Homo sapiens: one gene and its partners. The protein of the gene in region 7 interacts with the protein of the main gene of each other region in a pairwise test. Each region holds a gene or a part of one and is shown on either strand. Other genes may lie near its edges. The genes, in order: CWF19L2, PRAM1, SHISA6, SPMIP6, GPBP1, PTPN7 and CCDC57.

Region 1 (3,500 bases), on a different chromosome or scaffold from region 7:
GCAATCAGATAAATGCGAACAAAAACAATGAAATACCATTTCTCACCCATTTATTAGGCTGATAAAAAAATATATAAAGTTTGACAATTACAGATACTGAGTACTGGAAAAGAAACATATGCTCCTGGTACAGTATAAATTGGAATTCCAGATTACCAGGATTGTGTGATGCCCCTAGGAAAGTCATCAGCTTCAGCACTTCCTTACTTCTCTGGATTCATGCTTTTGCCTCATTTTTTGGTCTCTACAGATTTCCTATTGCTTCCTTACTAGCAAAGTGACAACAATAAAGTATAAAATAAGCATGCTTATTTTACATTATATCCACCAGAATTTCTAGATGTCTTGAAATGGAAGTATTTTCATGGTGTCTAATTCAGTATGTACACTGAAACAAAAATTGAGTGAGTTCACTTTCAATTTAATGATATTAAACTCAATATTCACTCAACTTTATATATGCCCTAGATTTATAAATCTAGTAAACCTTTAAACTCACTTCCTATAGGAAATTTATTTTTCTTAAACTGATGTATTTCATAGTTGTTCTCACTAATTGTATTAAATACTATAAAAAATAAAATGGTATTTTACAAGTTAAACTGCATTTATATAAATGTCTTGTAAGTTTATTAAAGGTAAATTAGAAAGTTAAAGCATTTCAAATATTCTCTTACCTGTTCAAGCGCTTGGTTTTTCTCTTGCTCTATTTTCCTCATAGTTTCCTTTTCAGCTTTGAGTGATGATGATGACACAGTTTTAACAGACATAAAATCAACAGTCATCCACTCATCCCTCTGTTAAAAAAAAAGACATAAAATCAACAGTCATCCACTCATCATTTCAATCTGAACTGATTAGAATTTAATAAACACTTGGTAATAAGAGCAGGGACTTTGGAGGCAATCAAACCTGAAACAAGTCCTACATGGCTATATAACTTGAAGCAAGCTTCTAAATCTCTCTATACTTTAGTCTCTCCTCTATAAAATGGTATAAAATCCCTACCTTTCAGGATTGTTTTAAAGAGTAAACAAGATAACAGATCTAAAGCATCCAGCCCAAAGCCTGGCACACAACAAGCAATCAAACTTAGTTCCTGTTCACCTTTCTTCCTTCACCTGTGGCTAACAGTGGACAAATTACATTCTTCCTGAGGCAGATGAACTATAGCCCAAAATTTTTGAACTATTCAACTGTTAAGTATTGTTAAGAAAATTAAGGCATGAGGTGAAGGGAAAAAAAACTGTGATGGAACTCCACTCACTATAGAAGGGTCAGACAGAGATACAGTATAAGGCTTTAGGGACATAAGGGGAAAGTGCCACTTCTTATCAACAATCAAAAGCATGAAAGCCTCTAAGGAACGAGAATAGAGAGGAACACTCACTTTCTCACAGTAGAAGGGGAAGGGGGTTCTAAACATTCAGCAAACAGCAGTACTGCCAAAATTATTCCTAAAGTATATTGTTTTCAAAGTCTAATTGTTCTCCTGAAGAAATTTTAATCATCTTTCATTTTCATATTCATTTATTCTCAAAAGTTGATACTTTTTTCTTTAAAACCAAGTGATAGGCCAGGTGCAGTGGCTCACGTCTCTAATTCTAGCACTTTGGGAGGCTGAGGTGGAAGGATTGCTCAAGCTCAGGAGTTTGAGACCCAGTCTAGGCAACATAGGGAGACCCCAACTCTACACAAAATAAAAAAATTAGCCAGGCGTGGTGGGCACACAACTGTGGTCCCAGCTACCAGGGAGGTCGAGGTGGGAGGATTACTCGAGCTTGGGAGGTCGAGGGTGCAGAGAGCTCTGATTGTGCCACTGCGGCCCAGCCTGGGCAACAGAGTGAGACCCTGTCTCTAAAATGAATGAAAGAGAGAAAGAGAGAGAGAGAGAGAAAGAGAAAGAAAGAAAGGAAGGAAGGAAGGAAGGAAGGAAGGAAGGAAGGAAGGAAGGAAGGAAGGAAGGAAGGGAGGGAGGGAGGGAGGGAGGGAGGGGGAGGGAGGGAGAGAGGGACAGAGAGGGAGGGAGGGATAGAGAGGGAAGGAGGGAGGGAGGGAGGAAGGAAGGAAGGAAGGAAGAAAGCAAGGAAGGAAAATCAAGTGGCTTGCTTACCTTGATAATTTGGGTGTCATCTTTTCCTGACTTTTCATCTTTCACTTTCCAGGCTTTTTCCTTGTCAGGAGTCTGGGATGGAACAGCCTCAACCCACTCATCTTCAGAGCTCTAAGAACATTTAGCATATAAGTGAAATTGTCAAATTTGCATACTTTGATATAAAAATTCTGTGCTGTTAAGTGGTAGAAATTCAACATCGTAGAAAAAAATTCTTACACTGTATTTCCCCTTTACAAAATGGCAATGAAATTTTAAAGAGCTGGGTGTGGTGGCTCACACCTGTAATCTCAGCACTTTGGGAGGCTGAGGCAGGCATATTACTTGAGGTCAGGAGTACAAGACCAGCCTGGCAAACATGGTGAAACACCATCTCTACTAAAAATACAAAAAAGTTAGCCAAGCGTGGTGGCGCATGCCTGTAATCCCAGCTGCTCAGGAGGCTAAGGCAGGAGAATCGCTTGTACCCAGGAGGCAGAGGTTGCAGTGAGCTAAGATCACACCACTGCACTCCAACCTGGGCCACAGAGACTCCGTCTCAAAAAAAAAAATTTTTTTAAAGAAAAAACATATAAACCCACTAGTTTGAGTTAAGCCCACCAAACACAACCAAATTATTTTTATTTTCTCATCCATTTATTATCAAGCCAAGAGAAGGCAAAAAAACAAAAATGGGAACTGCCAAGTAGAGACCTCACTTCAGCACAGAGCTTCAGTGACTACCAACGTCAAGTAGTTACTCACATCTCTGCTTCACTAGAACAGGGGAAACACCACCCAGGTAAACGAATTTGCTGTTTGCCCCTAAGTTTCACATTTTGAGATTTCCCTTGATCTAAAACTGCAGATAACATTATCTTCTTCAACACCCTCCTGAAGCTTTATACCAATTCCCATATTCTCAGCAAATGATGTCTTCTTTTACCTCATCAAGAAAACTAGGGCCACCTTATCCTCCTACCCACCGCCCAAAACATTTATGGCTGTGCCTATCCTTATTTCCAGTTAACTCCTCCTATTTAAGGCAGATCTTGCTCTAAAGATTTTGATAACTCTTTCTGTTCCTCCAGGACCTTGCTCCATCAATTATCTTCTCCTCTCACGGCATTAACCAAAGATCCCTAATGGCCTAGAAACAATTTCAAGCATTTCCCACCCTTTTTTTTTTTTTTTTAAGGAGGGAAGGGGGACCTTCCTTGACCCCGTATATTCCTCCTCTAGCAGGAATTAATCTTCCGGCTTCCATTCTCAGATGAACTTCTTGAAAGAGTAGTCTACATGCACCGCCTTCACACTCTCACTTTCATACATTTTCTCAAAACTCTACAATACATCTACTGTCCCCATTAATCTACTGAAACTTCTCCAAACTCACCAGTGGCTTCCA
Region 2 (3,500 bases), on a different chromosome or scaffold from region 7:
CCCAGCCTGATTTACTTAGACCTGTTGTGTTCAAGGTAGCTGAGGGGATGTCCAGGCAGAACTTGGGCCTGAAACTCAGGGGGAGGTGTGGCCTGCAGGCAGGTGTGGCAGTGGCAGGGGAGGGAGGCTGCCAAAGGTTTCTTAGAAGTTTGTGCTGGGTGAATAGGGAGCAGGCCCGCACCTCCTGCCCAGCTCCACAGTTAATGCCTTCATGAAAACACAAGCAGCTTCCAGGCAAGCACCTTGCCTGCCTGTCCCTAAATCTGTACCCTCCACTCCCTGCATGTCCCTAAATCTGTCCTTAAATCCGTACCCTCCACTCCAAAGTTAATGCCTTCATGAAAACACAAGCAGCTTCCAGGGAAGCACCTTGCCTGCCTGTCCCTAAATCTGTACGCTCCACTCCCTGCATGTCCCTAAATCTGTCCTTAAATCCGTCCTTAAATCCGTACCCTCCACTCCAAAGTTAATGCCTTCATGAAAACACAAGCAGCTTCCAGGCAAGCACCTTGCCTGCCTGTCCCTAAATCCGTACCCTCCACTCCCAAATCCCCACAGGGCAGTAAGGCAATGCACCCCCATTTTACAGATGCACAAGGCTGGCCCGGCGTGGCAGCTCACACCTGTCATCCCAGCAGTTTGGGAGGTCCGGTGGGCGGATCACTTGAGGTCAGGAGTTCCAGACCAGCCTGGCCCGCATGGCAAAAACCCATCTCTACTAAAAATAAAAAAACTAGCTGGGGCCGGGCGTGGTGGCTCACGCCTGTAATCCCAGCACTTTGGGAGGCCGAGGCGGGTGGATCACCTGAGGTCAGGAGTTCGAGACCAGCCTGAACAACATGGAGAAACCCCATCTCTACTAAAAATACAAAAATTCGCCAGGTGTGGTGGTGCGTGCCTGTAGTCCCAGCTACTAGAGAAGCTGAGGCAGGAGAATCGCGTGAACCTGGGAAGGAAGGGTTGCAGTGAGCCAAGATCACGCCATTGGACTCCAGCTTGGGCGACAGAGTGAGACTCAATCTCAAAAAAAAAAATGAGTCGGGCATGGTGGCATGCACCTGTCATCCCAGCTATTCGGAAGGCTGAGGTGGGAGAATTCCTTGAACCCGGGAGGTGGAGGTTGCAGTGAGCTGACATCGCGCCGCTGCACTCCAGCCTGGGTGACAGAGTGAGACTCTGTGTCTGTCTCAGTTGAAAAAAAAAAAAAAGGCCAGGCGCAGTGGCTCACGCCTGTAATCCCAGCACTTTGGGAGGCCAAGGCGGGTGGATTGCCTGATGTCAAGAGTTCAAGACCAGCCTGGCCAACATAGTGAAAACCTGTCTCTACTAAAAATACAAAAAATTAGCTGGGTGTGGTAGCAGGCGCCTGTAATCCCAGCTACTTGGGAGGCTGAGGCAGGAGAATCGCTTGAACCTGGGAGGCAGGGGTTGCAGTAAGCTGAGATCCTGCCATTGCACTCCAGCCTGGGTGACAGAGTGAGACTCCATCTCAAAAAAAAAAAAAGAAAAAAAAATAGGTACGCAAGGTTGAGGCTCTGGGATGGGGCTTGCCCTGGCTTGCACAGCTGGTCCACGAGCTGGATCTGTGGCAGGGCTTTCAGCGGGGGCCAGAGCTTGAGCTTCTAAGGTGCTCCTGCTCTCGCTGACAGCCTCAGAGGGCCTGGGGCAGAGAGGCCCCCTCTGCTTCTCCTGGGCTTTCTCCCTGAGCTTCTTGCAACACCTCCCTGTGAGCACACAGCTTCCTGGTGGGGCCCCTTCTGCTTCCGCTCTAGGGGAGGCTCTGTGGCTTGGGTCTGGGGGCCACCGTTGGGGATGCGGATGGCCAGGAGTGGGGCTGCTGAGCGCCTGGGCTAGTGACAGCCTGCCTCCAACCACTCCCAGAAGCCCTGCTGGAATCCCCCACCTCTTCCGAGGCTAGGAGCATCTGCCTCTCCTCAAACTTCATACAGTCCCCACCCTTGGCCCATTGTTCCTGTCACCAAATAACCTTCTCCCCCTTCCTTGCCAGTCATTTGAGGTTCTGATAGGAAAAAAGAAAAAAGGGGCCGGGCGCGGTGGCTCATGCCTAAAATCCCAGTTCTTTGGGAGGTGGAGGCAGGCGGATCAGTTGAGGTTGGGAGTTCGAGACCAGCCTGGCCAACATGGTGAAACCCCGTCTCTACTAAAAATACAAAAATTAGTTGGACATGGTGTTGCACACCTGTAGTCCCAGCTTCTGGGGAGGCTGAGGTGGGAGGATCGCTTGAATCCAGGAGATGGAGGCTGCAATGAGCCGAGATTGCACCTCTGCACTCCAGCCTGGGCAACAGAACGAGACCCTGTCTCAAGAAAAAAAGAAAAAAAAAAAGGTCCCACTTCCCTGGATCTCCCGCTTCTCAGGAGTGGCGTGGGCTTCTCACTGTGGGTGCAGCTTCTCAAAGGCAGCTTAGGTCTCTTGGGGCCAGGACTCTGGACTCCCCTTTCCCACTGTCTGCCTTACTTGGAGCAGTGGCAGCTCCACTGCAGAGGTTCCTGGAAGGCAGGGGGCTCCTCTGCAGGTGGGGAGAGCCCAGCCTTTCCCAGGGATCTGAGCTGGCCATGCGGGGAAGGCGGGCAGAGGCCTGCTCTGGGTCAGCTGTGGATGAACCAGGGCTGCCTGCATGGCGGTGCCAAGAGGTGCTCTAATGTGGCGGGTTTGCAGGGACCCTGGAGTGCCAAGGTCAGGTTCGCTCCTGGTGGAGTGACTGCTCACGGCCAGGGAAGCCTCTGAGAGGCAGGAGCAGCTGGAGGGGCTGTGTGTTCCAGGTGAGACTGTGGATGGCCATGCCTGGTATCTGGCGGGCACGATTCAGGTGCTGCTCCTTGGGCTGCTTGGAGGGACTACAGGCCTGAAATGTCCGGCGGGATACTTTGAGCCATTCGGAAAGGACATGCTGGGGCTCTGGGTTCTGGATCTTTCACTCACCAGGGTTCCTGGGGCTCCCACCTGAAGCCAATTCCTTGGCCAGCAGGGCTCTGACTTGGGAGCCTGGTCATTTGCCAGGAAGTGGCACAGGGAGACTGGCACCATGGGAGACCCCTCAGTCCAGAGTCTCATCATCAGTCACCAGTCCAGGACGCTTACCCTAGCAGCATCTTTTAAAAATTATTTTTATTTACTATTTTGAGACAGGGTCCTGGTCTGTCGCCCAGGCTGGAGTGCAGCGGCGCCATCTTGACTCACTGCAACCTCCAGCTCCCAGGTTCCGGCGATTCTCCTGCCTCAGCCTCCTGAGTAGCTGGCATTATGGGCGCCCACCACCACACCCGTCTAATTTTTGTATTTTTAGTAGAGACAGGGTTTCACCATGTTGGCCAGGCTGCTGTCAAACTCCTGACCTCAAGTGATCTGCCCGACTTGGCCTCCCAAAGTGCTGGGATGACAGGCATGAGCCACCATGCCTGGCCATGATATTTTACTGTCAACTATCATTGCCCTCCTGTGCAATGGAACACCCAATTTCTTCTTCCTAACTGTAACT
Region 3 (3,500 bases), about 71 Mb from region 7:
ACCAGTCCCAGGGCATGGGAAGGTAGGTCTTTGCTTTCTTAAGTAATCTGAGTATCACTGACTCCATTACATTCAGGAAGGTGAGACCCAACTGTTCTACTGGACTTGAGAGAGAGAAGGGCACCAGCAATGTACTAGCTGTGTGACCTTGGGCAAGTTACTAAGCCTCTCTGAATCGGTTTCCTCATCTACAACATGGGCCCCTACACTCAGACGGGATGATGGGAGGATGCAGCGAGATAATGCAGGTTAGGTGCAAGCTGGATGCTGGTACAGAGTAAGCCCTCGAGACCCGGCACTCTTATGAGTATCTCTCTACCATCCTCTCCACTTCCTTGAGTCTTCATCTCACCGAGATCTCCAGTTCTCTCCAACTCTGGCTTGTGGGCTTGCATGAGTGATGGGGTTGTGTAAGCTCCTGGGACACAGAGCTCCCACTGTCCTGACACGTGAGCAGAGTTAAGAGGGACTCCCCAGGCTCACAGCAAGACTGACTCCTCCAGAATGCCCAACAATGGCCTTTAGAGGGTCATCAGGACCAGAGGCTCTGCCCCGGCCTATGCATGGGGGCAGTACAAATGCCCAGCCCTTTACCAACCCCTAAATCCTGACTGAGATGAAGGAATGCCATTCTACCCAGGTAGCACAGCCATGGCTTCCCTGCCTGCAGACACTGAGTCTGGTAACCCTTGTCACCTGCCTTTACACTCAGCCTGCCCCACCCTCGCTCCATTTCGGTGATCAATTCATCCACTGAATGGACATTTGGGGGTGGAGCGAGTGGTGATAAATGCACATTAGGAATTGATCAGCAGTGCTCACTGGCAGCCTTATCTTCCTGGGCTTGCAAATATTTCTACATCATCTAAGGCAGTCTGGCCCAGCTGGTGACCCCGTCTGAATGCAGAAGTACAGAGGCGACAGCCCTGGGATAGAAAGAAGGGAAGGCACAGTGAACACTCTGGCTCTGACCCCGAGCCTCACTGCATACATCCCGTAAAACTGGGTCCTTTTACCCTCAGTATCAAACTAGGAAGCTAAATTAAGCTAACTGTCTACTATCTCATGCAGAAATATGGGACGTGCACTTTTTCACCCTTTCTGAGCAGTTCCATGTGAAATGCTTGCTGCAGACTCAACTCCTTTTTCTCCCTCTCTCTTAGGACCTCCACCACCTGCCTGACACACGGATAAAGCATAAAACTGATTTTCTTAAGGCCAATAATTGTCGTTCCTCATGAGGAGTGTCCTCTTCAAAATGATCATCGTGGATTGCCAGGCACTCCTGTGCAGAGCTGCCATTCACTCCTTTCTGAAATGCCTCTTCTGGGCTCCTGCCTTCAGAGACAGCTGACACGGCTCCTAGGAGAGCAAGTCTCATTACTGGAGGCACTCTTGATTTCTGATCACCTATCTCATTCATCAGACTCAGCCCCATGACTTACCATTGCTTACAAGAATCAAATCAACCCTAGGAAAATTAAAATATGTTACCCTTATATAAAGTCAAAATGACATGCCATGGGCTCTCAATGTACTTTCAAGAGAGGGACCGTGGAAACATTTTCTGCAGAAAAATCAGCATGCGGCCTCCCAAGGTGACTGCTTGGAAGGGTGACACATTAAGGTATGTACAACCAGGTTCTTTCAAAGGAAGTATCAAGCACATTACAGGGAAAACCCCCAAACTGCATGCCACAGAGGTTATTTTCACATAATGATTAAGCCCAGATTTCCAGCTTGATTAGCCTGCAGTATCTGGGCCCAGAGCTGAGAAAGGGCAAAACTGGCGTCTATGAATGAGCTTCCGTGGCTTGCAGAGCTATATTCTATGCAGGGGGCCAACCCAGAAGATAACCCTGAAATCACACACACATATACACACGCACACACACGTCCACACACACGCACGCGCACACACACACACACGGCCACTGGATGGCGGGAGGTCTCTGGCCTCTCACAGAGCTGAACTGCATTGATCCGGTAGGTCTCAGCATTCAGCATTTCCACTCATCTCTGGGAGAGAGAGAGAAAGCATTCACAGTCTGAATTTTTTTTTTTTTTTTTTTTTTGAGACGGAGTCTCGCTCTGTTGCCCAGGCTGGAGTGCAGTGGCGCGATCTCGGCTCACTGCAAGCTCCACCTCCCAGGTTCACGCCATTCTCCTGCCTCAGTCTCCCAAGTAGCTGGGACTACAGGCGCCGCCACCAAGCCCGGCTAATTTTTTGTATTTTTAGTAGAGACGAGGTTTCACCGTGTTAGCCGGGATGGTCTCGATCTCCTGACCTCGTGATCTGCCCGCCTCGGCCTCCCAAAGTGCTGGGATTACAGGCGTGAGCCACTGTGCCTGGCCCTGAATTTTTAATGACAGATTTCTGCCCACAGTTTCATTCGGTGACTTTTTGCCCCAGTCCACAACTCTTTGGTTGTGCTGTTATTTTCCTTCTTCAATAGTCCGCATTACTCAGACCTTATAAAAGGATTATGCTTAGATTAGGTTATTGCCCTTAAGAAAGGAACGTGAAAAAACTGCAAAAGGAGCGGGGAAGATCGACAGAAATCATTTTAGTGGAGACATTCAGTGGAAACAGTGAACCAGGAGGGGTACAGAAACGTAGGAAAGAAAGAGAAAGGAGAAGGCTGTAACTCACATCTCTAAGGATCCCAAAGTTATTTGGTGATGACTAACCAAGGAACGTGCAAAGAGTAAAGAAGCAGAATATATTTTCATTGAATGAGATGAGTCTGAGCGCTAGAACACAGGCGCCCTGGCTTAACCTCCAAGCTCACCCACCCACTAGCTGGGCTCCTTGGCACTGTGACCTAGCCTCTCTGAATTTCAGTTGCCTCACTTGTAAAACTAGGTAACGAGATTAAATGAATTGCCTGCAATGAAAACGTTATAATTCTGTAATAGATGACAAAAGAATAGAATGTACTACCCTGCTTTTTCAGAAGTTCTGGTTTCACTTCGAGAGATTAAAAAAAATAGAGTTAGCAATGTATCCTGAATTGTTTTAAAATTAAGCTTGCTCAAGGGTTGAGTTCAAGGGACTGAGACCCTCTGAGGATTCACTGGTAACCCTTGTACCCAGGCCTCTTATCTCTCTACAATATCTGCAAAGAAAGACACTAGAGGCCAGGCTCCGTGTCTCACACCTGTAATCCCAGCACTTTGGGAGGCAGAGGTGGGCAGAGCATGAGGTCAGGAGATCGAGACCATTCTGGCTAACATGGTGAAACGCTGTCTCTACTAAAAATACAAAAAATTAGCCAGGTGTGGTGGCGGGCGCCTGTAGTCCTAGCTACTTGGGAGGCTGAGGCAGGAGAATAGCTCAAACCAGGGAGGCGGAAGTTGCAGTGAGCAGACATTGTGCCACTGCACTCCAGCTTGGGCCACCAAGCAAGACTCCATCTCAAAAAAAAAAAAAAAAAGAAAGACGCCAAAGAGGTGAGGTCATAAACGTAACTCAGGAAGAAATAATGGGGTGGAGTTTC
Region 4 (4,008 bases), on a different chromosome or scaffold from region 7:
CATACCCAGGAACTGCCAGCTCCAAAATATTGGGGTACAGCTCACCACCCCCCACTCCGCCAACCCATTCCTACCTCCTCTAGTGCAGGGACCCAAGTTAGATGATGAGAAAATGCCAAACAAAGGGAGGCAAGGACAGAGAAGGTACCTGCAGGACCCACAAGGCCCATACTGGCCCCCATCTGAACCCACCTCTCCCACCCAGATCAACATCCCCCCAACCCCTGTGCCCCCATCATCTGGACCCCAGAGCCAGCCCTCCCACTACCACCACCACCACCCCGGGGCTCCTTGGCTCACCTTTCTAGAACATGGGTACCTCCTCTTTTTGGGGGCTCATTTAGACTGCTGCCTTTGCTGCTGACTTGCAGTGTGACTCGGGCCCATTGTTCAATCTCTGTGGCCCTGAGACACCAGGGAAAATCTCCCCCCCCACAGGACATACTAGTTCCCTGGCAGGCAAGGGCTTCCAACTGAGGCAGTGCATGTGTGGCAGAGAGAGGCAGGAAGCTGGCAGTGGCAGCTTCTGTGTCTAGGGAGGGGTGTGGCTCCCTCCTTCCCTGTCTGGGAGGTTGGAGGGAAGAATCTAGGCCTTAGCTTGCCCTCCTGCCACCCTTCCCCTTGTAGATACTGCCTTAACACTCCCTCCTCTCTCAGCTGTGGCTGCCACCCAGCCAGGTTTCTCCGTGCTCACTAATTTATTTCCAGGAAGGTGTGTGGAAGACATGAGCCGTGTATAATATTTTTTTTAACATTTTCATTGCAGTATTGACCATCATCCTTGGTTGTGTATCGTGTAACACAAATAATGATATTAAAAGCATCAAACAAGCCAGCCTCAGCTCCCTCCCTGGGGTGTGGGCAAGGGGCAGATGGGCTGGGAAGCAGACAGAACTGGTCCTCTGGGCACACATGTTACTCCACCTCCACCTGTGGGTTCCCAGGCATGCCACTGACCTGCTGCATGACCCTGGGTGAGTCACAACCCCTCCGAACCTCTGTTTCTCTTCAACAGTGAGAAACCTGACCTAGAAGATCTCCAGAGGCCCTCTGAACTCTTAGAAATTGGGCTCTTTTGATAGGCTTGAGGCAGGAGGGGGTCAGGAGCAGGGAGGGAATTAGACCTCCTCACCTTCCCAGGGATGGGGCTGAGCCAGGTGATATCACAATGGGCAGTGCCCATCCTGGAGGGGGCATCAGTGTGGGGTGGGAGCAGGAAGGCTGTTGGGGAAGGAAGCTGAGAGATCCTCTGCAGGAGGGGATTATAGCAGCTAAGGGCACCTGCCAGGCTGGAGGTGTGGCCTGTCTAGGGGAAGGGTGGTCACTGATGTCCAGCAGGAGCCCTTGACAGGTAGAGCCCACCACGGCATCTCCAAGACCACACCATGTTCCTGTTCTCCCGTAAGACCAGGACCCCTATCAGTACCTACAGTGACTCCTACAGGGCTCCCACCTCCATCAAGGAGGTCTATAAGGACCCACCCCTGTGTGCCTGGGAAGCCAACAAGTTTCTGACTCCGGTAAGTGGGAGATTGGTGGGGAGGGGCAGGCCAGAGTGTATGGCCAGTCTGGATGCCTGGCAATGTATGTTTGTAATGATTTGTAGCTTTGTGTATGTGTGTGTTTTATTCATTTACCTAGGCACAGAATTTACAATGGTATGTAAAACAGCACAAAATCCTGCCTTCATGGAATTACATTAGGGTAGGAGGTAGGAACAGGCAGATAATAAGAAATAAACATGAGTTTTATAAATTCTTCAAAAATACTGTAAAGGAAATAAACAGAGTAGTGGAAGTGGAAATGGAAAGGGAGGGCTACTTAGGTCATGGAAAACCCTCTCTCAAGGTGACAATAAACTGAGACTGGAAAGATGAGATAGAACTAGCCACATGAAGACCTGAAAGAATAGAAGAGCTGAAAGTTCCAGACAAGTGATCACAAAGTGCAAAGGCCCTGAGGCTGCCTGTGGAATAGGCCGGAAACTGTCCTATATGCATGCCTTTATCTATATGTATCACAGTTTACTTGTGTCTGTGCTTGAAGATTGGTGGCCAGGTGGGAGGAAATCTGTGAGTCTAACTGTGACTCTGCCTAAGAGAATTTATCTGTGTGTACCATCCAACTTTGCTGAGTATCTTCATCTGTAGGCAACCCAGGATACAAAAGGGAAGGGCCAGCCCTTGCCTTTGAGGAGCTCACAGCAAACAAGTGAACAAAGTAGAGTTGCCCGATGTGGAACATGCACCAGCAGAGGTGGAGAGCCAGAAAGGGGAGAGCGCTGCCCAACCTGAAGGGCAGACCTACTGAGGGATCCAGGAGGAGGAGGCTTCCAGCAGAAGACAGTCAGGAGAAAAGGCAGCCTGTGGGCAGGGACCTACCAGAAACTGAAACTGTTAGAGCAGGAGAGTTTAGTCCTTGGGTGAGAGAGGAGTCTGCAGACCAAGAAGGGCCTCTCTGGCTATGTTGTGGAGCGTGGACATAAGGCTCCAGGTTTTTGAACCTGGGAGGGAGAGTCATGGTTCAATTGTGAGTTAGGCCACTCTGGCCACAGTGTCAGGGAATTGCAGGGGCTGGGGTTGAGGGCAGGAAGGCCAGCGAGGGGTGAACAGATGAGGAAGGAGGATGTAGGTGGGAGATAAGGAGATTGTCACAATGAAAAAAGGAATTCGTTGAATAGGAGAGAATTTTTAAAATAATTTATTTTGTCTAACTCCAAAATAAATATACGCTGAATGTAGAAAATGCAGATAACTCAGAGAAGCACAAAGAAAAAAGGTCTAAAATCCTACTACCTAAAATTACCATTGTTAATATATTATCGTATGCCCTTTCAGGAAGCAAATATTGTTTATTATAAAAATAAATAAAATTTATTACAAAATGGTGTATTTAAGGAATCTTATTGAAAATTTAGGTACTTTATAAAATTTTGCTAGTATAATCATTCTTATACATGTATCTTTGTACACATTTCCAATTATTCCCTTAGGATAAATTACTAGACATGAAATTGTTAGGAGAAAAGATATACACATTTTTAAAACTTTTGCTATATACCTCAAATTGCCATAATAAGTAAGGGTTGTAACAATTTACATTTCCACAAGCAAAATATGAGAGTGCCTGACTCCATACTCAATAGAAGGGAATTTTAAAAAGTAGATGAACAGATTTTGGTCACCATATGGATGGTAAGGTGAGAGATTAGGGTGACCCTTGAGTTTTTGGCTGTGGCAGCTGGAGGAATGCTAATGCTATCAACTGAGGTTTGGAATAACAGATTAGAGATTTGGAGTTCATTTGAGAACAAAAATATTTGAGGATATCCAGGAAAAGATGTTTGGCAAGTAGTTAGATATACTTATCTGAAGCAAAGGAAAGAGGTCTGGGTTATAGATAGAGATCTTGAAGTCATCATCATATAAATGGTGGGTGAAGTCATAGGAAGAGATGAAATTGCCAAAGAAGAGAGAGAAAATGGCCAAGGACATAACTTTGGAGAATATAAATATTTAAGGGTAGGTAAAGGAAAAAAAGCCATAAAAGAAGACAGAGAATTATTGCCAGAGAACTAGGAGGAAAATCAAAGATAAACCAATAAAGACAGCATTATTAGACAAAGATCAGTGTCAAGTGTTAGTGACAGAGAAATCTCTCGGATGTAGTAACTCTTGGTAACTTAGCCAGACAGCTTCAATGAATGGCGAGGAGTGAAAGTCAGATAGCAGTGGTATTAAGAATGAAGGAAAAGCCAGGCATGGTGTCTCAGGCCAGTAATCCAAGCACTTTGGGAGGTTGAAGCAGACAGGAAGATTGCTTGAGCCTACGAGTTCAAGACCAGCCTGGGCATCATGGTGAAATCCTGTCTCTACCAAAAATACAAAGATTAGCCAGGTGCAGTGGCATGTGCCCATAGTCCCAGCTACTCGGGAGGCTGAGATAGAATCACTTGAGCCCAGGAGGTTGAGGCTGCAGTGAGCCTTGATCACACCACTTTACTCCAGC
Region 5 (3,500 bases), on a different chromosome or scaffold from region 7:
TAAGACTCCATCAAAAAAAGAAAAGGAAAGGGAAAGGGAAAGAGAAAGAAAAAGGAAAAAGGAAAAGGAAAGGAAAGGAAAATAGAGCTCTATAAATCAATACAAATAAGGACAACCTAATGGGGAAAACATGAGCAAAAAGCCAGTTCTCAAAAATTAAAGAGCCACAAATCACATGAAAACATAGCCAGGTTCTCTTGTAATCAAAATGCAAGATTAGAACAAAGCTGGCACCTCTTGCCCATTGGCCAATATATAATGACAGTAAGGGTTGAGAAGACAGACAACTCCTTTTTTTTTTTTTTTTTTTTTTTTTTTTTTTTTTTTTGAGATGGAGTCTTGTTCTGTCGCCCAGGCTGGGGTGCAGTGGCACGATCTTGGCTCACTGCAACCTTCACCTCCTGGGTTCCAGCGATTCTCCTGCCTCAGCCTCGTGAGCAGCTGGGATTACAGGCACCCACCACCACAACCGGTTAATTTTTATATTTTTAGTAGAAACGGGGTTTGATCATTATTGGCCAGGCTGGTCTTCAACTCCTGACTTCAAGTGATCCACCTGCCTTGGCCTCCCAAAGTGCTGGGATTATAGGAGTGAGCCACTGCACTCAGCCCAGACAATTATTCATTACTGGGTTAGAAAACATACACATACATATATGCTTGCTTACTTCTCTCAGTAGGGAGGGAAATGCACATGTATATCTATACTTATATTTGTCATCTTTTAAGTCTTTATGGTTAGTTTTTTTTTTTCAGTCTTGCATGTATTTCAATAGATTTATCCTAGCACCTTATAGCATTTTAAAAATTTTTTTGTATTATGCCCCAGAACTGAGCAGATGCCATTTATACTGCAAATATTTTTCTACAGCTTATTTTTTTTAATTTCCTTAAAAAAATTTCCCCCGCTGAAATCTGAGTAAAATAAAGAATGGAGGGGATCTTTTTCCCCCTTAGAGACAGATCTATATGCCCAAGCCAGACTTGAACTCCTGGCCTCAAGTGATGCTCCTGCCTCAGCCTCCTGAGCAGCCGGGACTACAGGCATGCACCACTGCACCCAGCTTTGAGATACAGATATAGATGCAGACTTTTTTTTTTTTTGAGACAGAGTCTCGCTCTGTCACCCAGGCTGGAGTGCAATGGTGCAATCTCAGCTCACTGCAACCTCCGTCTCCCAGGTTCAAATGATTCTCCTGCCTCAGCCTCCCAAGTAGCTGGGACTACAGGTGGCCACCACCACACCTGGCTAATTTTTGTACTTTCAGTAGAGATGGGGTTTCACCATATTGGCCAGGCTGGTCTCGAACTCCTGACCTTGTGATCTGCCCGCCTTGGGCTCTCAAAGTGCTGAGATTACACGTGTAAGCCACCACGCCCAGCTAGCTTTGATATTCTAAAAAGACTATATAGGTGGTTTTAATGAAGTATTTAAACATATAAAGAAGTAATTAAACAGGGTACTTGTTACTATTTTAAATATTTTTTAAAGCCTTAAGTCTTTGTTGCACTTACAATTCTATCTTGTATTAGTCTTTTATCTAGCAACTTTATTTCTAGTAACCTTAATTCATACTTTGTAGCATGTCTGTTGGGATTTTTTTATACGGACAGTTACTGTTCATAAATAATACCAGTTTTCTATCTTGCCCTTTAGTCCTGTTACCTGTTATTTCTTACTCATATTTTACTATGCTGGCTATATGTCAGAGTCTTTCAAGAGTCTGGGATGTTACCATCTGTGCAAGCTAACAAGCTAGCCTGGATACTGTTTCATGGATGCTGGCAAAAGACATGAGACAAAGACTTTATTACTCATGGTACAGCAAGCAGCATAAGCGTGATGTTGGCACTGGTTCTGTACAGCCCCCTAAGACCTTTGGGGATTGACAGGGAGGGGCCCAGGTGGATGCTGCCCTTGCACTGAGTTTGGCAAATCAACCACATATATAAAGAGCTTGGTCTTTGTCCCTCAATGTTGCTTACTGCAAACAACCAAGAAACGGCCCATGCAAAGTGTAGTCAAGATTTTGCATTCTTGGCATACAAGCAAGAACGTGTAGGGGACTGGGTGCAGTGTCTCATGGCCATAATCCCGGCAATTTGGGAGGCTGAGGCAGGTGGATCACTTGAGGTCAGGAGCTTGAGACTAGCCTGGTCAATACAGTGAAACTCCATCTCTACAAAAATTAGGCCAGGTGTGGTGGCTCATGCCTGTAATCCCAGTACTCTGGGAGGGTGAGGTGGGCAGATCACCTGAGGTCAGGAGTTTGAGACGAGCCTGGCCAAAATGGTGAAACGGCTCACTAAATACACTAAATTCACTAAAAGTACAAAAATTAGCTGGGTATGGTGGTGGGTGCCTGTAATCCCAGCTATTCAGGAGGCTGAGGTAGGAGAACTGCTTGAACCTGGGAGGTGGAGGTTGCGGTCAGCCAAGATTGCACCACTGCACTCCAGCCTGAGCAACAGAGCGAGACTCCACCTCCAAAAGTTAAAAAATAATTTCAAAAGAATACAGGCCGGGCACGGTGGCTCACGCCTGTAATCCTAGCACTTTGGGAGGCCAAGGCAGGAGGATCACGAGGTCAGGAGATCGAGATCATCCTGGCTAACATGGTGAAACCCCGTCTCTACTAAAAATACAAAAAATTAGTCAGGCGCGGTGGCGGGCACCTGCAGTCCCAGCTACTTGGGAGACTGAGGCAGGAGAATGGCATGAACTCAGGAGGCGGAGCTTGCAGTGAGCAGAGATCGCACCACTGCACTCTAGCCTGGGCAATAGAGCGAAATTCTGTCTCAAAAAAAAAAAAAAAAAAAAAAAAAAAAGAATACAAAAATTAGCCAGGCTTGGTGGCGCACACCTGTAATCCCAGTGACTTGAAGTATGAGAACTGCCTGAACCCAGCAGGCGGAGGCTGCAGTGAGCTGAGATCGCGCCACTGCACTCCAGCCTGAGTGACAGAGCAAGACTCAATCTCAAAAAAAAAAAAAAAAAAAAAAAAGCAAAAATGCTCAGAGCCCAGGATGAATTGCCTCTCTCAATGATCTACCCATCAGCCCTATACATTCTTGGCTGAATTTGAATTTTCCCATTATTATTCCACTGTTAGTAACTCATATTAATCTTCCTGACAGAGACTAGAACAAAATTCATTTAACTGGTCTTATACAGCATTTAATTAAGTCTATTATCAACATCTCAAGTGAGGTCAGGACCCAGCCAACTGAATAAACCCTGGAAGGAGGAACGCTGGTGGAGGTTGGGAACCACCAATAAGTAATTTTGCCAGGATATGGTCTAAGGCCATGATTATCCATTACAGTTCATTAACAGGAATTTAAACCGACCTGACTGTTGGTGTCTTTCATTAACAATTACAAGGGCAACAAATGGGCCAAAAGTTACCCCTCATTGTCAATAGAGAGATGTCCTGTATCTCATTCTCTCACATAAAAACCAACCACCCCAAGGGACACAGGTCACTCCAAGATCTGTT
Region 6 (4,087 bases), on a different chromosome or scaffold from region 7:
GAGTGCAGTGGCATGATAGCTCACTGCACCCTCCACCTCCAGGGTTCAAACAATTCTTCTGCCTCAGCCTCCCGAATAGCTGACTACAGGTGTGTGCTACCACGTCCGGCTAATTTTTTGTATTTTTAGTAGAGACAGCGTTTCACTGTGTTAGCTGGATCTCCTGACCTCGTGATCCGCCTGCCTCGGCCTCCCAAAGTGCTGGGATTACAGGCATGAGCCACCACGCCAGGCCAGCAATACATTTCTGTTGTTTAGAAGCCACATGGTTTACGGTAGTGTGAATTGTTACAGCTGCCTGGGTAGGCTATGAGGGTCCACCCTGTCTCACTTCCTAAATTGACTTTGGTTTCACCTTACTTTATGTCCTTGGAAGTGCTAGAAAAGTGCATATCCCAAGGGCAAAGATTTGCAGCCTGCCTGTCCCTGGTCTGCAGTCTTTCTCTCTTGCTACAAAGAGGCCCCAGAGGGCCAAGAAGAAGATGGAAAGAAGGAATGAGTCAGTCATCCAAGAAGTCTTTATTTTCCCACTTGGTTACTGTTCTGGAGCTTGTACCCTCTGAGCTCTGAGATGGGGTTGGGGGGACAGTGCCAGGGAGGGCCTGTGGGGCTGTGCAGTTGCTTCCCTCTGGGCTGGCTCTGAGCCCAGGGCAGGATCAGGCACTTGAGAGCCCCCCACCGAGCCTCATTGGCATAGACAGTCGTGCCTCTCACAGGGCTCAGGGGAGGTGGAGGTGTGGGCAAGTCCATCCCCAAGGCTGTAAGGAAGGAGCAGCTCCTCCATAAGGCCAAGCAGAAGCATTAGGGAAATCATCCTCAGTTTTAGCACTGCGTGTTCTTCAGGAGAGAAGTCCTGAGTGAGGAGGCCCAGCTGTTCTCCAGATCCAACTCCTCGGGGGTTTCCACAGAGAGCTGGTATCAAGGCAGCTGTCAGGGGCGGCGTGCCTGGTGATGCGGCATCTTACCTTCATCCCCATCTCAGAATGGGCAGCCAGTCTCAGATTCAAGGAGGAGGAATCCTGAGGTGTGGCGTTCAGTCCTGAGGTAGACCTGAGGTCCCCTGGAAATTGTGTTGATGCTGAGATGGATGAGGGGTGCTCATTCTCTCAGGTAGACAGTGAGGAGTCCTGGTTCAGCCGAGCCTCCATGTCTGCATGGATGGTTATGACCCTGATTGTTTTTGGAAACAGCCAAGCTCTCTAGGTGTACTCAGCAAATGCAAGGTATAGTGGGTCCTGCATACCCAGGGTATTATTTGAGCCATGGAAGCAAAACAGAGACTGCTTAGCCTCCCTAAGAGTAGTTGGTGGGAGTGGCCAGCAACCATGGAGGCAGGAGCAGCTCCTCTTTGCCTCTGAGTAGTCCCCACATGTTCCCTCTTCCAGAGATTTCAACTGCCAGGCCTGGTCACCTCTGTAGCCTACTCTTATGACACATGGGTGGAGGCAAGGGTAACCAGAGTCCTTGTTCTTTCTTTTGATTGGGGTCATCCAGCCCTTCCGATGTGTGGTCAGGGAGCAGAGTCACTGATAGGATGTTGAGACTTGGAGATCAGGACCAGACTTTTCCCCATTCTTGCATCTGGCCTGTGCTTGGGCAGGACCTCGGGTGAAGGATGATCTTGGAATCACCCTTTTGTCAGCCCCAGGAAGGAGTGGCTGGAGTGGCTTCTAGAAACTTCTCTCATTACTTTTCCCTCATGGCAGCTAAGCACTTATGTTCATGTTATAGAACAGGAAACTGAAGCTCACAAAGAGTGTCTCAGAGAACACCAGGACACCTGGGCTTCTTTCTTTGTCTGTCATAAATGCCAGCTCCTGTCTTTAAGTTCAGAGAGACATTGGAGGTTCCCCTTACTGTCCATCTGGGGCCAACAGAGGAAGCAGAGGAGTGGCCAGTGTTGAAGACCTGGAATCCGGCCCCTTGTCCTTACTGCTGCTGCTTCCTGTGACTGCAAGCACCACTAAGGAGGCACTCCTTCCCCACACCAACCCAAGGGGTACCCCCAGATCACTCGGCCCACTTTCCCCAGACCCACCTTCCCAGGCTTGAGGGAGGTAGGCACCTGGGCCACCGGAGGGTGGCAGGGGTCAGGGGCTGGGTTCCTCAGGCAGCTGGCCTGCATACAGGGCCAAAGTGTGGTGCAGGAACTGGTACTGCTCTGCCGTCTGGATCATCCCCCCTCTGCAAGGAGAAACACACAGACCATGAGTGAAGGAGGGTCAGGGTGCTGGCTGAATGGCTCCAGTCAAACATCCCTGTGGTCCTACTGGGAAAGTCCTGACTTTCTCAAAGAACATGCCAACTCCTTTGCCTATATTCATCTTTTCACTTTTTTTTTTTTTTTTTTTTTTTTGTGAGACAGAGTCTCACTCTGATAGCCAGGCTGGAGAGCAGTGGTATGATCTCAGCTCACTGCAACCTCTGCCTCCCAGGTTCAAGTGATTCTCCTGCCTCAATCTCCTGAGTAGCTAGGACTACAAGTGCCTGCCACCTTGCCCAGCTAATTTTTGTATTTTTAGTAGAAACAGGGTTTCACCATGTTGCCAGGGTGGTCTTGAACTCCTGACCTCAAGTGATTGGCCCATCTTGGCCTCCCAAACTGCTTGGATTGCAGACATGAGCCACCATGCCCCACCACCTATATTCATCTTTTCTACTTTCTACTCCTCATTGCTGCCCCTCAGATCTGCTGTGAGAGAAGTCCTCTGCCCCTTACACGTGCTGAGGGGTGATGCCCCATGTTGACACTTGGTCTTCCTTGATCCACTCAGCTCCTGGGACAAAACCAGATCTCTGAAGCCTTGGGTCGGGCCAGGAATACTCCTGAGCCTCAAGTTTCCTTCTTTCTAATAATCTTAAAAAGTAAAAATAATGATTCCATACATTTGTATAGTAGTTTCCATTTCCAAAACATTTTCATATAAGTTAACTCATTTCTTACAACAGTTTTCTGGGGGAAGGAGCCATTATCTCTGTCTAGATAAAGAAGAAGTGGGGGCTGGGCACAGTGGCTTAAGCCTGTAATCCCAGCACTTTGCAAAGCCAAGTGGGCATTGTTGAGCCCAGGAGTTCGAGACTAGTCTGGGCAACATAGTGAGACCCCCATCTCTATTATTAAAAAAAGAAGAAAGAAAAAAAAAGAAATGGGGGCTCAGAGAAATCTAGTGACATCTCAGTGAGACAGATGTCAGAATCTGAACACCGGCTCTGCCTCCACCCAGTGATCTTCTTTGCACTACTTGTTGCTGCCTCATATCATGTTTAATTCCAGGCATCCAAGCCAACATTCCAGACAGATATTCTTTTTTTTGTTTTTTTTTTTTTTTTTTTTTGAGTCAGAGTCTTGCTCTGTCACCCAGGCTGCAGTGCGATGGCACAATCTCGGCTCACTGCAATCTCCACCTCCTGGGTTCAAGCAATTGTCCTGCCTCAGCCTCCTGAGTAGCTGGGATCACAGGGGCCCGCACCAGGCCTGGCTAATTTTTGTATTTTTAGTAGAGACAGGGTTTACACCATGTTGGCCAGGCTGGTCTCGAACTCCTGGGCTCAGGTGATCCACCCGCCTCAGCCTCCCAAAGTGCTGGGATTACAGGTGTGAGCCACCGCACCCGGCCATCCAGATAGATATTTTTTCCTGGTTGTTAGTTGTAAAATAAACAGCTCTAAGCAGAAAGGGTTTCTTCCTTTCTTGCAGGAGTGCTTGATGGTGATGGGCCTAGCAGAACTCTGGGGCCCAGAGGCACTGATGCCATCCGTTAACGTTGTTGGCCTTGTTTACACCCACAGACCCACCTGTCTAGCCGCAGTTGGCACACAATACCCAGAATGTCCACTTCTCCTCGGGCTTTCAGCTGTTGACAGCCAATTCGCGTGGCGATGAAGCAGCCCGTCCGGCCAATCCCTGCACTGGAGATAGCCAGGGAGGGGACAGGGAGGTCATGGGAGACCAGGGAATATGAGAGCCAGGCCCCAAACTATGGAGAAAGAAATGGGACCTGCAGGTGCTATATTTTGGGGATAGGGCTCTGGAGATGGAGGCAGGTAGCAGTACTCTGCTTTCCAGTCCCCTTGGGGGCCCTGCTGG
Region 7 (3,500 bases):
ACCAAAACAGGGAGGGCTGACTGCAGTGAGGAGCCAGGGCACGTGGGCTCTGGAGGGAGCACAAGGAATTCCATTCACACCAAAACAGGGAACGCTGACTGCAGTGAGGAGCCAGGGCACGTGGGCTCCGGAGGGAGCACAAGGAATTCCATTCACACCAAAACAGGGAACGCTGACTGCAGTGAGGAGCCAGGGCACGTGGGCTCTGGAGGGAGCACAAGGGGCTGCTGGGCTGGATGACGCCGCCCCAACGTCTGCAGTAGCCTTGAGCTGTATATTTGCTATGAGCGGACTTTTGCAGGGGTCAGATTTCAGTTTATAAGGGGACAGCAAGTACCCCACTGAGACGCGGACTTACCAGTCGTCTCTGTCGAGGTGCGGACGCTGGGCTGAGACTCAGCATGAGGTGAGGACATCTTTAAAGGATCCAACACATCTTCTAGATGCTTTTCCAGAGTTTTAAACTTATGCTTTAGAGTTCGTATTTCTGCTTCAAGGGCCAGAACATAATCTGCCAAAAAAACCTCCAGTGAATATAACACATACACAGCATCCTTTCGCACCTCCCTCCTGTGAGCACCAGCTCAGGGAGCCGATGCCAGCTCATGCCCGCCAGCTTCACTGTCCCTGTCCTCCTCACACTACAGCTTCACCGTAGTTTCCACACTCTCTGTGTGTGTCAGACTGAAAGACCTTCCCTCCCCTCACTGGCCAGAGTGTGCCAGCCAGAGACCAGCACAGTCTCCATGCTCTCCAGGAAGGGCTCAGTGATCAGGAGCAAATGCTCCACCTGCCGCCAGCCCACGTGCCTCTGTGCAGAGGGGCCAAGTCCCATCTCGAGAACGGAAGCTCTGCCTCCATCCCGGCATCTGCCCACCCACAGCCACTCATGGGGTCCCTGGGGGTCGGGAGGCCCTCATCAGCTCTGCCACAGACGCTCCTCTGGAGGAAAGGACTGAGGTCCACCAGCCCCTGCTACCAACCCATTCTGGGACAGCGCGACAGCAAGCCAGCCCTGGTCCAGGTCTAAAACAGGTTTTTAAGTGTGTCAAGCAGGTACCCTCATTTTTTCCTTCCACTTTACAAATATAAAAGCTTTTTGGTATAAAACTTAAGATCCCTTCTCTTGGAGAAAAAGCAGTTTTCATACTTTGAGTTTATTACAGGGGATGTTAACTTATAGGACTCTGAAATGAAGCCTCCTTGAAGCCAGTCAAGACCCATGCTCCCGTCTGTCCTCCTCCCTCCCTCTCCCCCTTCCTCTCCCGCTCTGTCCGTTTCTCCCACTTACTCACCAGGAGTGGCGGCATCTCCCCCAGCCTCTGGGTCAGGCTGGTTTGCATCTGTGCTCTCTGCCGCTGTCTGGATGGGAGGAGGAATCTGATGGCTTAGAGCCTCCATTTCTTTCCTCATCTGGGCAATCGCGTTTCGCAAGCTCGTGTTCTGCTCTCGGAGCCGCTGGATCTCACTGGATGGAAAGTCTTTACTTATTTCTTCTTCATGCTGCCTGAGAAGCATCTGTCAAATACAAGGAAAAATGGCTACAAAAAGATGAATGGTTCCCCAGCTTGTCCTGACAGGCTGTGCCTCCGCTCTCCCCGCGCCCCTCTCGGGCCGGTCCCCCGCTTCAGCTTGGGCTGTGGTCCCTCCCCATCCCCAGGCTGTGATGCCCCTCCTTTCTGACAGAAGTGCAAATATGACACTCAAATTCCTGGAGCCTTTCATACTTTTGAGATCCCTAGAGTGTCCAATCCACAGAGGCAGAAAGTGGAATGGGGGTGCTGGGGCTGTGGGCGGGGAGGGGGAGCCAGTGTTTCTTGGGGACAGAGCTTCAGTATGGAAAGATGAGAATGTTCTGGAGAGGGTGGTGTGATGGCTGCACCTCCGTGTGAATGCGCTTCATGCTGCTGAACTGTGTGCACCAAAAAATAGTTAAAGCAGCCAGTTTTGCGTTATGTATACTTTAGTACAATCAAACATCCACTAAATAGGATGAAGAGCAGGTTCAGAGCGCGCAGAAGAAAAGGCAGTGAATATAAACACCTGGCAACAGAAAATACCCAAACTGAAGCTCAGAAGGAAAGGTGCCAAAGAAGAAAAAATGAGCAGAGCTCTGGAGACCATGAACAAGGTGCACAAGGAACCAGGAGCCCAGATGAACGCAAAGACAGGAGACGCGTCTACAACAAGGCCAGACATGTTACAAATGTGCTGAAAGCCACACATCACAGATGACGAAGCAAATGAGCTGAAAGCCGACATCACAGATGACGAAGCTCAGTGAACCCTAAGCAGGATAAACAGAAAGAAAATCATACCAAACAGCACATAATCAAGCTGCTGAAAAATCAGCAACAAAATGGAAACTCTAAAAGCAACCCGAGAAAAGAGACATGTTACCCTAGGGTCAAAGGGCAGGCATAGGGATGACAGACCCCGCAAGGAGCCACCAAGGCGGGAGGACAACGAGGTGAGGTGGCTCCGGTGCAGGAGGAGAGACAGGCCCCGCCCACCCAGTTCCTAGGGAGAGGGAGTGTCCTTCTCTAACCAAAGGTGAGGGGCGCTTCTGCCTCTGACCAGGAGGGACTCACTGCCATGAGTCTTTCCCTGCGGCTGTGAACAACTAGAACACCAGACACATTAGAGGAAACACCTGCTTCCAGACGCCAGCATAGACCCCAGATACGGGAGAGGGAAACAAAGTCCCAGGGTCTGGCCCAACTCAACCTTGAGTCCAGCCAAGATGTGTGCAAAAGGCACAGCTTCCTCTCCTGTGGAGCCACCCTGAGGGACGCAGAGCCTGCTCCCTACTCTGCACTCCATGAACACAAACCTGAAGCAAGATCTGGGCCCTTCCCAGGACGCTCTGACTGCCCGCTGGCTCCTCCGTGCTCCCTGGCAAGGCCAGCTGGCCTGGGCTCCCAGGAGGAGAGCTTCACACGCTGCGCTCAGGGGTGGAGAGGATGCGAACAGAACCTGCACCTCAACTGGCAGTTTAGAAACGGAGACAGTGCGATGCCTAACCCTGTTTTTACTCTAACTCGCTACTTTAAATTTTGCCCTGTTTGTCTCTTTAATCACCTAGCCTTGTTTCTCATGTAAATAAGACTCTCTCTAGCTGGGAAAGCCGGACAAACTCCAACTGACCCCTTAATTTACAAGACACTAAGGGCTCCTTACCCAACCCCCTTCCGCAAGGAGTTGACCTGTGTAAGCAGATCCTCAGCATTTCAAAGGAGCCCAATTAACTGATAAGGTACTGGCACCAACAACGTCTGAAGTTCCCAGGATTCTTCTCAAAGAGATAACAACATAAAGCCTTGAGTTCGTGTCCGGCATAGCATCTATGTCTAACTATAATGAAGGATTTAGAGCCCTGCACCTGGTACCGTTGCTTTTTGTAACCATTTGTCTTTTAAATTGTTTATCGCTCTGTAACCATTTGCTTCTTTTGATTCTTGCATGTTTTTACTTCTGTAGAATTATTGCCTTTGAGTTCC

The links.
Region 1: the proteins of CCDC57 (region 7) and CWF19L2 interact in binary tests that used the Homo sapiens proteins (3 or more experiments, as listed by UniProt).
Region 2: the proteins of CCDC57 (region 7) and PRAM1 interact in binary tests that used the Homo sapiens proteins (3 or more experiments, as listed by UniProt).
Region 3: the proteins of CCDC57 (region 7) and SHISA6 interact in binary tests that used the Homo sapiens proteins (3 or more experiments, as listed by UniProt).
Region 4: the proteins of CCDC57 (region 7) and SPMIP6 interact in binary tests that used the Homo sapiens proteins (3 or more experiments, as listed by UniProt).
Region 5: the proteins of CCDC57 (region 7) and GPBP1 interact in binary tests that used the Homo sapiens proteins (3 or more experiments, as listed by UniProt).
Region 6: the proteins of CCDC57 (region 7) and PTPN7 interact in binary tests that used the Homo sapiens proteins (3 or more experiments, as listed by UniProt).

Annotation. Positions count from the first base shown.
Region 1 is NC_000011.10:107,440,826-107,444,325, forward strand, and holds part of CWF19L2 (CWF19-like protein 2), read right to left. Parts: intron 2,225-3,500; coding exon 2,114-2,224; intron 798-2,113; coding exon 678-797; intron 1-677.
Region 2 is NC_000019.10:8,492,641-8,496,140, reverse strand, and holds part of PRAM1 (PML-RARA-regulated adapter molecule 1), read left to right. Parts: intron 1-3,500. UniProt on the Homo sapiens protein: May be involved in myeloid differentiation. May be involved in integrin signaling in neutrophils. Binds to PtdIns(4)P.
Region 3 is NC_000017.11:11,247,713-11,251,212, reverse strand, and holds part of SHISA6 (protein shisa-6 isoform 1 precursor), read right to left. Parts: intron 1-3,500. UniProt on the Homo sapiens protein: Involved in maintenance of high-frequency synaptic transmission at hippocampal CA3-CA1 synapses.
Region 4 is NC_000009.12:34,395,011-34,399,018, reverse strand, and holds the start of SPMIP6 (sperm microtubule inner protein 6), read left to right. Parts: upstream 1-1,208; 5' UTR 1,209-1,385; coding exon 1,386-1,520; intron 1,521-2,684; exon of another isoform or gene 2,685-4,008. UniProt on the Homo sapiens protein: May participate in intramanchette transport and midpiece formation of the sperm tail. May play a potential role in somatic cell proliferation.
Region 5 is NC_000005.10:57,226,059-57,229,558, reverse strand, and holds part of GPBP1 (vasculin), read right to left. Parts: intron 1-3,500. UniProt on the Homo sapiens protein: Functions as a GC-rich promoter-specific transactivating transcription factor.
Region 6 is NC_000001.11:202,146,516-202,150,602, forward strand, and holds the end of PTPN7 (tyrosine-protein phosphatase non-receptor type 7), read right to left. Parts: intron 3,910-4,087; coding exon 3,796-3,909; intron 2,858-3,795; coding exon of another isoform or gene 2,720-2,857; intron 2,185-2,719; coding exon 2,091-2,184; 3' UTR 501-2,090; downstream 1-500. UniProt on the Homo sapiens protein: Protein phosphatase that acts preferentially on tyrosine-phosphorylated MAPK1. Plays a role in the regulation of T and B-lymphocyte development and signal transduction.
Region 7 is NC_000017.11:82,171,343-82,174,842, forward strand, and holds part of CCDC57 (coiled-coil domain-containing protein 57), read right to left. Parts: intron 1,519-3,500; coding exon 1,296-1,518; intron 512-1,295; coding exon 359-511; intron 1-358. UniProt on the Homo sapiens protein: Pleiotropic regulator of centriole duplication, mitosis, and ciliogenesis. Critical interface between centrosome and microtubule-mediated cellular processes. Centriole duplication protein required for recruitment of CEP63, CEP152, and PLK4 to the centrosome.